Regions from separate parts of the Homo sapiens genome. Here region 2 is linked to region 1. Evidence: fine-mapped expression QTL. A gene starts in region 1. The other region holds a variant in brackets. All regions are shown on one strand. Distances are from middle to middle.

Region 1 (4,398 bases):
TAGGCAGATAGAGAGGGGGCAGATAATAACAATCCAGTCAGGTATGGAGCTGACTCAAAGTTGAATTGCAGCTATATCTCTATTTATTGCCAGTTTGCTTCTGTTCTTATTCTTTTGCTCTCCAGGAATTCTAGTTGGGTATCTATTCCTTGATGGGTTTTGAACTATAATCTTTATCTCCTCCGATCTGTGATGAGACTTCTGAAAATTTTCTGTGCACTTCAACAGCTTTCTTCTTATCTTCTTTCCCTGTTCATCTTAAGAATTCTGCTAATGTTTGAAGAGAAAACCACCAAGTTTTAGGTTGGCTGCTTAAAGATTCCCTTTTCATCAGGATCTTGGCCCCTAAATCCCTTGCTGTCTTGTCAGACTTGACTCCAATTTTTGTTCTTAGTTATGTGACATTAACCAAAATTATGGAAAATTCTATGCCTTCAAGCCACAGTCATATTCTTAGATTCTTCAATTATTTGCTATGAAGAATCTGCAACATCTTGGACTAGGAACTTGGGCTATCCCTCTCTTCCCATGCAAGGCAGTTTCTTCACTCCTACCCTGGGTACATCTCTAGGCATCTGGTGACTGCTCCCAGGACCCCCATCAAAGCTGGTGCTTTGGGTCTCTGCACATTCAAGCCAGGGAGGGTCCATGACCAATAATTTTCAAAATGTAGCTTCCAGAGTCATAAAAAATGCAGATGCTCACTGTGTGGTGGACGGAGGCAGATAGGCTCTAGGCCGGGCACCCCTGCTAAACCCCAAACTGTAACTGGGTAGAATTCATTCCTAAAAGTCTTGCGTATGCTATACTTGGTGCTCTTTGTTATTCATATTGGCCTCTGCCCTTTAGCAGGTATATTCCTTCAGATACACATTTTGTTTCTCTGAAAACTGGATCCTCTTAGCTTTTTTTTTTTCTTTTAATTTTGGTTAGTTCAATGAGGTTCAGGTAATATTCTCAGGTTGGAAGCAGTGTGGCAGAACAGCCCACTTCCAGTGTTCGTTCTTACCGGTCAATGTCTCTGCATTCAGTAATTCAACTATCAATTGCGGCTATTTAAATACATTGCTTTTTAATGTATTTAAATAGCCGCAATTGATAGTTGAATTACTGAATGCAGAGACAGATTTAATGGGTGCAGCACACCAACATGGCACATGTATACATAGGTAACAAACCTGACCTGGACGTTGTGCACATGTACCCTAAAACTTACAGTATAATAAAAAATAAATAAATAAATACATTGCAATTTACAGGTGAAAATACTTAAGGGTGAGCGGTTAAACAACTTGCTTACCACCACCTAGTGGATAACAATGATTGACAGCTCTTAATGTCAGTTCCGTCAGACAACAAAGCCCACATTTTTAAAATGCTATGCTATGCTCTCTGAATGTTCAAACCAGGGAAGGCCCACGCCCAGTAATTTTCAAAATGTGGTCTCCAGAGTCATAAAAAATGCAAGAGCTTATTGTGTGGTGAACTCAAGCAGATAGGCGCTGGGCCACCCACCCCTGCTAAACACCAAACTGTAAATATATAGTTCACAAGACTACTTCCTATGTGCAAGGGGCTGGTTTAAGCATTTTAACTACACTAACTCATTTCAATCTAACAAGTCTGTTACATAGTTACTATTATTATTGGCTATCAATATTACGCCTATTAAGCTGATGCTTAAAGGTTAGGTAATCCAGCCAAGATCTCGTAAGTGGTGTTGTCAGATTTGAATCCAAGGAGTCCCTTGCTTGTAATGACTATCCTACCAAAAGTTCCTTGCCTAATAAAATGTTTGAATATTACTGATCCAGCCCAAGTTTGAAGGACAGGGCCCAAAGATGCGAAAGTATTTTCCTAATATAACACACTCAGCTAAATAATAGAACAGGCTCTTGCAACTCTCTGTGGTCCCAGGACACTGAGGAGGGGCTCCTTCTCATGGCTTCATTTCAGCTCCACTGTGCGTTTCCCTTCTCTGCCTGGAGTCTCCAGAGGAGCCTGGGATTTGGCAAGAAGGCGGGAGGGAGGAAAGCCTCACTGGACCAGGAACGAAGAGGGTGTCTGGCAACAATAGGACGGAATTTGAAAACCTCTAACCTTGAGTTTAGAGCGATGCTAGCTAGTGCCAGGGCTAGTGAGGTGCCCATTCCGCCAAGGCGCGGGACAGCGAGGACAACCACGCCTTGCCAACCAAAGGCGACCTGACAGCGTTTCCTCGGGGTCGTCGCGGTGGTGAGGGTCACAGAATTCTCCGAAGCCAGTAGCTCCGTTTCCAGCCACGCCCCCTTTCCCAGGGCCCTAAAAGCTTCGGGAGTTCTCCTATTCCATTAATGCTGGTGCGTCCTCGCCTTATCCCCCGAGCGCCCGCAGCTCCCGCCCGCGCAGGAATGCCAGCGGCCAAAGGTCGGGAGGCGCGGGATACTTCTGGCCAATCAGGAGTCACGTTTTCCCGCGCTCTCTCTTCCCGCCCCGCCCCTCCCGTATCCATGGAAACACTGCGAGTGTCTACTCCAAGACCTGGGACTTCCGTTTCGGTCCAGCCGGGCTGCGGCCATTGTTTGTGTGGACTGAGTGTTTTGGCCATCCCGGTCCACTCTCACAGGCTCCGTTAAGTGACATGAACTCTCAGGAGGACTGAGCCAGAAGCGGACAGGGCAAGACGAGCTGTGCTTGAAGGAAGAGGGGCAGAAAATCGAGGGTCAGGGACTGAGAAGCTACTCCGGTTTAGAAACCCCAGAGACACCCGTGTAGATGGGTACATCACGGCTTCTCTCCCACGTTAAGACTTAATAAAGGCAAGTAGAGGAGGGCAGAAGCAGCTTGGGCCCCGGGGTATGGGTGCCCGGTGTTCGGTGCCGGGGCAGAGTTCTGGCCGGGGATCTGGATAAGCAACGGAGGCCGCGCGCGTCTTCAGTGCAGGAGCAGGGGACCCCCGGGTCTGTGGCGGAGACCGGGAGATCCCGCTCCTAGAGAACCGTTCGTGTGTCTGGTTCTCTGGTGCTTACACTTGGGCAGCCCGTGACGCGTTGGGGGAGCCCAAACCTGTCCTGCTCTTGGGGCACGCATGAAACGTTTTTTCCCTAGAGAAAGAGGGTTAACTAATTGCTTATTACTTTGCCCAGGAACCTACCTTTGATCAGCAAGGAAGGACTGGGGTGGCAAAGGCTCATGCCCCCATTTTACAGGTAAGGAAACTGAGATCTTGGAGATCTATAAGTTTGGTCCTCTTTAAAGTTCTACAAGTGCTTGATGGCACAGTTGAGACTTTGATCAGGACCTGGGAGCTCCAGTTCTGGGATACTTCTCTAAGACTCCAGGTACTTTTCTGATAGTAAATCCAGTATTCCTGTTTAGCAAGTAGGGGAGGACAATGGAATGATTTTCTACTTAAACTGAACAAAATAAGAAAAATACCTTGAGAATAGATACTATTTAAGTGTGCTGGTGCTTTCCTATTATTGTTAGTAGTAATAATAATCTCAATAAATAAGTGAGTTGTATCTTTTGAAGTTTCTAGAGGGTTGGAAATAAATTTCAAGGTGCCAGTGTTCATAGCTCTCCTTTCTGGTCGTTGAAAGGAAACAAGAGCATTCATAGGCTTCTTTTGGACCTCTTGCTAGGAGATGTGTGCGTCATACCCAGTTAGTATATGGGAAATTTAATGAATTTGGGAATTTAAAGCCATACCCAGGTTTTCAGTCTGCCTTCCTCCTCAGCTCAGCCGTCTCAGCACTCTACCCTTCCCCAGAAGAGGAACACAAAGGAGGAAGGAATGTACACTGTTTCCCTCATAGTCTGATCCCAAGTGAGGATGATTGTCTTTTCTCATTTACAAAATGTCCCTGCATTCTCCATGGGTGGTGGAGGTGGCAATGAGGATGGATGGATGACTGGACAGAAAACGTTCCTCGCTTGCCTGTGAAATTTTCGAGCGTGCAGACTTGACCCTGCCCCAACCCAGTGTCTTTTCCCAACATTTACTCATTCATTCATTCAGTCACTCAAGTCTAGTGTATAATTCATGCTGTTCTTGGTGTTCTGAGATAAAGAATTATAAGAATGTCATCGCCAGGCGCGGTGGCTCACGCCTGTAATCCCAGCACTTTGAGAGGCCAAGGTGGGCGGATCACTTGAGGTCAGGAGTTTGAGACCAGCCTGGCCCACATGGTGAAACCTCGTCTTTACTATAAATACAAAAATTAGCCAGGCATTGTGGCAGGCACCTGTAATCCCAGCTACTCAGGAGGCTGAAGCAGGAGAATTGCTTGAACCCGGGAGGCTGAAGTTGCAGTGAGCCAGGATGGCACCACTGCACTCCAACCTGGGCAACAGAGGAAGACTCCCTCTCAAAAAAAAAAAAAAAAAAAAAAAAGTCTTAACATTGGGGGTAATAAA
Region 2 (4,398 bases), 900 kb before region 1:
AGAGGGGATATGGGGGGTGGTTCCCCTACTGGAAGGCAGGAAAGCCCCACCATGGTGGCTGGGTCCAGGACCTTTTAGGGACTCAAAATGGGAAGTACATGCTGGTTTGTGAGGTATGCAAAAAGGTTAAAGTGAAGACACCACTCAAAGGTGGGCATGACAGTGTAGAAAAACCAATTAGGAAAGGGTAGGTATATGTAAAATAGGTGAAGAGCGGGGAACAATCAGAGGAAAGTATGTGAAATGGGAAGATAAGTTCTCAATCCGGTCCCAGAGTTTAACTTGCAGTTTGGCTTTCAGGCTTTAAACTGTCTTTTGTTTAGAGGTGGGGTTTCACCAGGAACCCACCCCATCTGCCTAGGCATTTGGCTGCCTCCTGTCGCTATCAGTGATATCTGAATGTTGTATAATACTGTTTTCATTTGGGCACCAAACAGCCCTCAGCAAAAGCCTTTGATTGGATCCCATCTCTTGATATCCTGAAATTTCCTTCTGATAGCTTTTAAAAGAACCAATTAAGTAAGACTTATGTAAAACGAACAAATCAGCAAAGAAACAAACAAAGGAAGCTAAATACAGAAAGTCTTTTTAGCCATTCTTTAGTTCATTTTGTTCATTGATTCTGTAAACCAATTTTTTTCTTAAAAAAAATTCTTTATAAAAATGTCTTAAGAGAGCTAAATCTAATGAAATAGTCTCTGCTCTTGAAGGATTTACAGTGTACTGGTCATTAGATGCTGGAAGGTTACTATATTTGACGCTTTCCTCTTTCATTGCCTTTGTGATAAATAAAGCCTGGATTGGCAAGATGTTCATGAAATTACAATAAGAAATTAGGTCACTCTAATTCTAAATTTGTATGTGTGTGTGTATATGCGTGTGTGAATCCAAGTATGTGCTGGGAATTTATACATTTGTGATGTTATGTGAGGAGATAGAAATAATCGCTAGTAAATTTAGTCATAGTTTAAAATTTTTATGTTATTCTGATGAATAGAAATTGTTAGTATGCTTCACACATAATAGCCTAATCATATCATTTCTGCATACTATTCTTCATGGTGATTTTTAGTTATAGTCACCGTGGCTGCTACTGCTGCTAGTTTTCTAGTTTATGCCCATTCTCCTTTTTCTTTAATAGAGAAAACCCCATTTTTGTTCTTTAAGTAGAAAAAAAAAACAAGTTTCTTAAGGGCAGTAATGTATCCAGTTAATAACCAATTTCCCAGTTTCTCTTTTGAACAAGGGTGGTTTGTGACACAGTTCTGACTAGTGATATATAGGTGGACATCCTTGAGTAGGGTGTCTATGAAAACTCTTTAAAAATGTGACTTAGTTAATAAGGACTTTTTGCTCTTCAACCTCCTCCTTCCTTCTACCTGAAACAAGCCATGAGGCTAGAGATAGTGCAGCTATCTTGCAATGAGAGTTAAAGCATGACTAGAAAAGCCAGGCCCTACAGAGGCCAAGTGGAAAGCTAGAGGGCCCCTGGGTCTGTGACGGCATTGCGTAGTGACCTTATCATTCCTCTCCTGCCTATTTGTTTACTGACTGTTACTTCAGAGAAATAAACCTTGTCTTTGTTTAATCCAGTATTTGCTAGGTTTTCTGTTACAGCATAACCCAATCCAGACTGTTATTGTTACAAAAAAAAAAAAAAATAAATTTAAGAAAACTTACATGTAGTGGATAATTTGGCATCTTTCTCCACAATATATTTAAGCTTAAGGTTAGAAAATTTTAAATTATATTTTTTTCTGTTTAGATCTGAAAAAGAAATTATGGAGCTGTAATACTGGTAGTCATGAATAAAGTTTGACAAGAAAAATAATATCCTAGAAGTGAAATAGAGTTACAGTTTTCTTCCAGAAAATCCAGGCAAATAGCAACCCATAATATGGACAGATTTAAAGGTTTTATAACCCCCTTCACCAAAGATGCTTAGAGGTGGCTGATGTTCCAAGTAAACTTGAAACAGAAAGCAAATCACGCAAGCTTGTTTCAAATATAAAAGTTAATACTTTTTTCCAATACATGCTTCTCAAAGAAAATAAGCAGAAAAAAAAATTTCTACCATGAAAAGCTGCACATAATTTGAGTTCCAAGTGTTTTTTTTTCTTGAAGATAAATCTTGCTTTTTATATAACTTGGATCATAAGATTATTCAAGTGTGTATTTTATTTAAGTTAGTGACTTACACATTGTTTATGTTACCACAAAATTTTCATAAACATAGTTTTTCATCAGAACATGGAAAATTATTTATTTGCTCATTCCCTATTTTTGGATGTTTAAGGTGTTTTGAATTTTATCAAGTCATAAAAAGCACTGCTAATTATATGCACAGCATTTTCCCTGCAAAAAAAATTTTAAAAAATTTTTCTAGATCAAC[G/A]AGACAGAAAGTCAACAAGGATACACAGGAATTGAACTCAGCTCTGCACCAAGCGGACCTAATAGATGTCTGCAGAACTCTCCACCCCAAATCAACAGAATATACATTTTTTTCAGCACCACACCACACCTATTCCAAAATTGACCACATACATGGAAGTAAAACTCTCCTCAGCAAATGTAAAAGAACAGAAATTATAACAAAATATCTCTCAGACCACAGTGCAATCAAACTAGAACTCAGAATTAAGAATCTCACTCAAAACCGCTCAACTACATGGAAACTGAACAACCTGCTCCTGAATGACTAGTTGGTACATAACGAAATGAAGGCAGAAATAAAGATGTTCTTTGAAACCAACGAGAACAAAGACACAACATACCAGGATCTCTGGGACACATTCAAAGCAGTGTGTAGAGGGAAATTTATAGCACTAAATGCCCACAAGAGAAAGCAGGAAAGATCCAAAATTGACACCCTAACATCACAATTAAAAGAACTAGAAAAGCAAGAGCAAACACATTCAAAAGCTAGCAGAAGGCAAGAAATAACTAAAATCAGAGCAGAACTGAAGGAAATAGAGACACAAAAAACCCTTCAAAAAATTAATGAATCCAAGAGCTGGTTTTTTGAAAGGATCAACAAAATTGATAGACCGCTAGCAAGACTAATAAAGAAAAAAAGAGAGAAGAATCAAATAGACACAATAAAAAATGATAAAGGGGATATGACCACTGATCCCACAGAAATACAAACTACCATCAGAGAATACTACAAACACCTCTATGCAAAAAAACTAGAAAATCTAGAAGAAATGGATAAATTCCTCAACACATACATTCTCCCAAGACTAAACCAGGAAGAAGTTGAATCTCTGAATAGACCAATAACAGGAGCTGAAATTGTGGCAATAATCAATAGCTTACCAATCAAAAAGAGTCCAGGACCAGATGGATTCACAGCCAAATTCTCCCAGAGGTACAAGGAGGAACTGGTACCATTCCTTCTGGAACTATTCCAATCAATAGAAAAAGGGGGAATTCTCCCTAACTCATTTTATGAGGCCAGCATCATTCTGATACCAAAGCCAGGCAGAGATACAACCAAAAAAGAGAATTTTAGACCAATATCCTTGATGAACATTGATGCAAAAATCCTCAATAAAATACTGGCAAAATGAATCCAGCAGCACATCAAAAAGCTTATCCACCATGATCAAGTGGGCTTCATCCCTGGGATGCAAGGCTGGTTCAATATACACAAATCAATAAATGTAATCCAGCATATAAACAGACCCAAAGACAAAAACCACATAATTATCTCAATAGATGCAGAAAAGGCCTTTGACAAAATTCAACCACCCTTCATGCTAAAAACTCTCAATAAATTAGGTATTGATGGGACATATCTCAAAATAATAAGAGCTATCTATGACAAACCCACAGCCAATATCATACTGAATGGGCAAAAACTGGAAGCATTCCCTTTGAAAACTGGCACAAGACAGGGATGCCCTCTCTCACCATTCCTATTCAACATAGTGTTGGAAGTTCTAGCCAGGGCAATTAGGCAGGAGAAGGAAATAAAGGGTATTCAATTAGGAAAGGAGGAAGTCAAACTGTCCCTCTTTGCAGACGACATGATTGTATATCTGAAAAACCCCATTGTCTCAGCCCAAAATCTCCTTAAGCTGATAAGCAACTTCAGCAAAGTTTCAGGATACAAAAATCAATGTACAAAAATCACAAGCATTCTTATACACCAACAACAGACAAACAGAGAAGCAAATCATGAGTGAACTCCCATTCACAATTGCTTCAAAGAGAATAAAATACCTAGGAATCCAACTTACAAGGGATGTGAAGGACCTCTTCAATGAGAACTACAAACCACTGCTCAAGGAAATAAAAGAGGATACAAACAAATGGAAGAACATTCCATGCTCATGGGTAGGAAGAATCAATATCGTGAAAATGGCCTTACTGCCCAAGGTAATTTATAGATTC

Evidence for each region. PIP is the estimated chance that this variant, and not a neighbour inherited with it, causes the effect.
Region 2: its variant is the best candidate, but not a certain one, in a credible set for the expression of ZNF214 in gastroesophageal junction (GTEx, PIP 0.78).

Annotation. Positions count from the first base shown.
Region 1 is chr11:7,018,473-7,022,870 of GRCh38, reverse strand. It overlaps ZNF214 (zinc finger protein 214), which reads left to right and starts at 2,525. Exons shown (of 3, transcript NM_013249.4): 1 at 2,525-2,798. It overlaps NLRP14 (NLR family pyrin domain containing 14), which reads right to left and starts at 2,392. Exons shown (of 12, transcript NM_176822.4): 1 at 2,101-2,392.
Region 2 is chr11:7,921,827-7,926,224 of GRCh38, reverse strand. OR10A6 (olfactory receptor family 10 subfamily A member 6 (gene/pseudogene)) reads left to right here. Exons shown (of 4, transcript NM_001004461.2): 4 at 1-1,633. Among named protein-coding and RNA genes, the nearest start is that of OR10A6, 7.2 kb to the left of the region's middle. The variant G/A (reference allele first, on the strand shown) is at 2,393.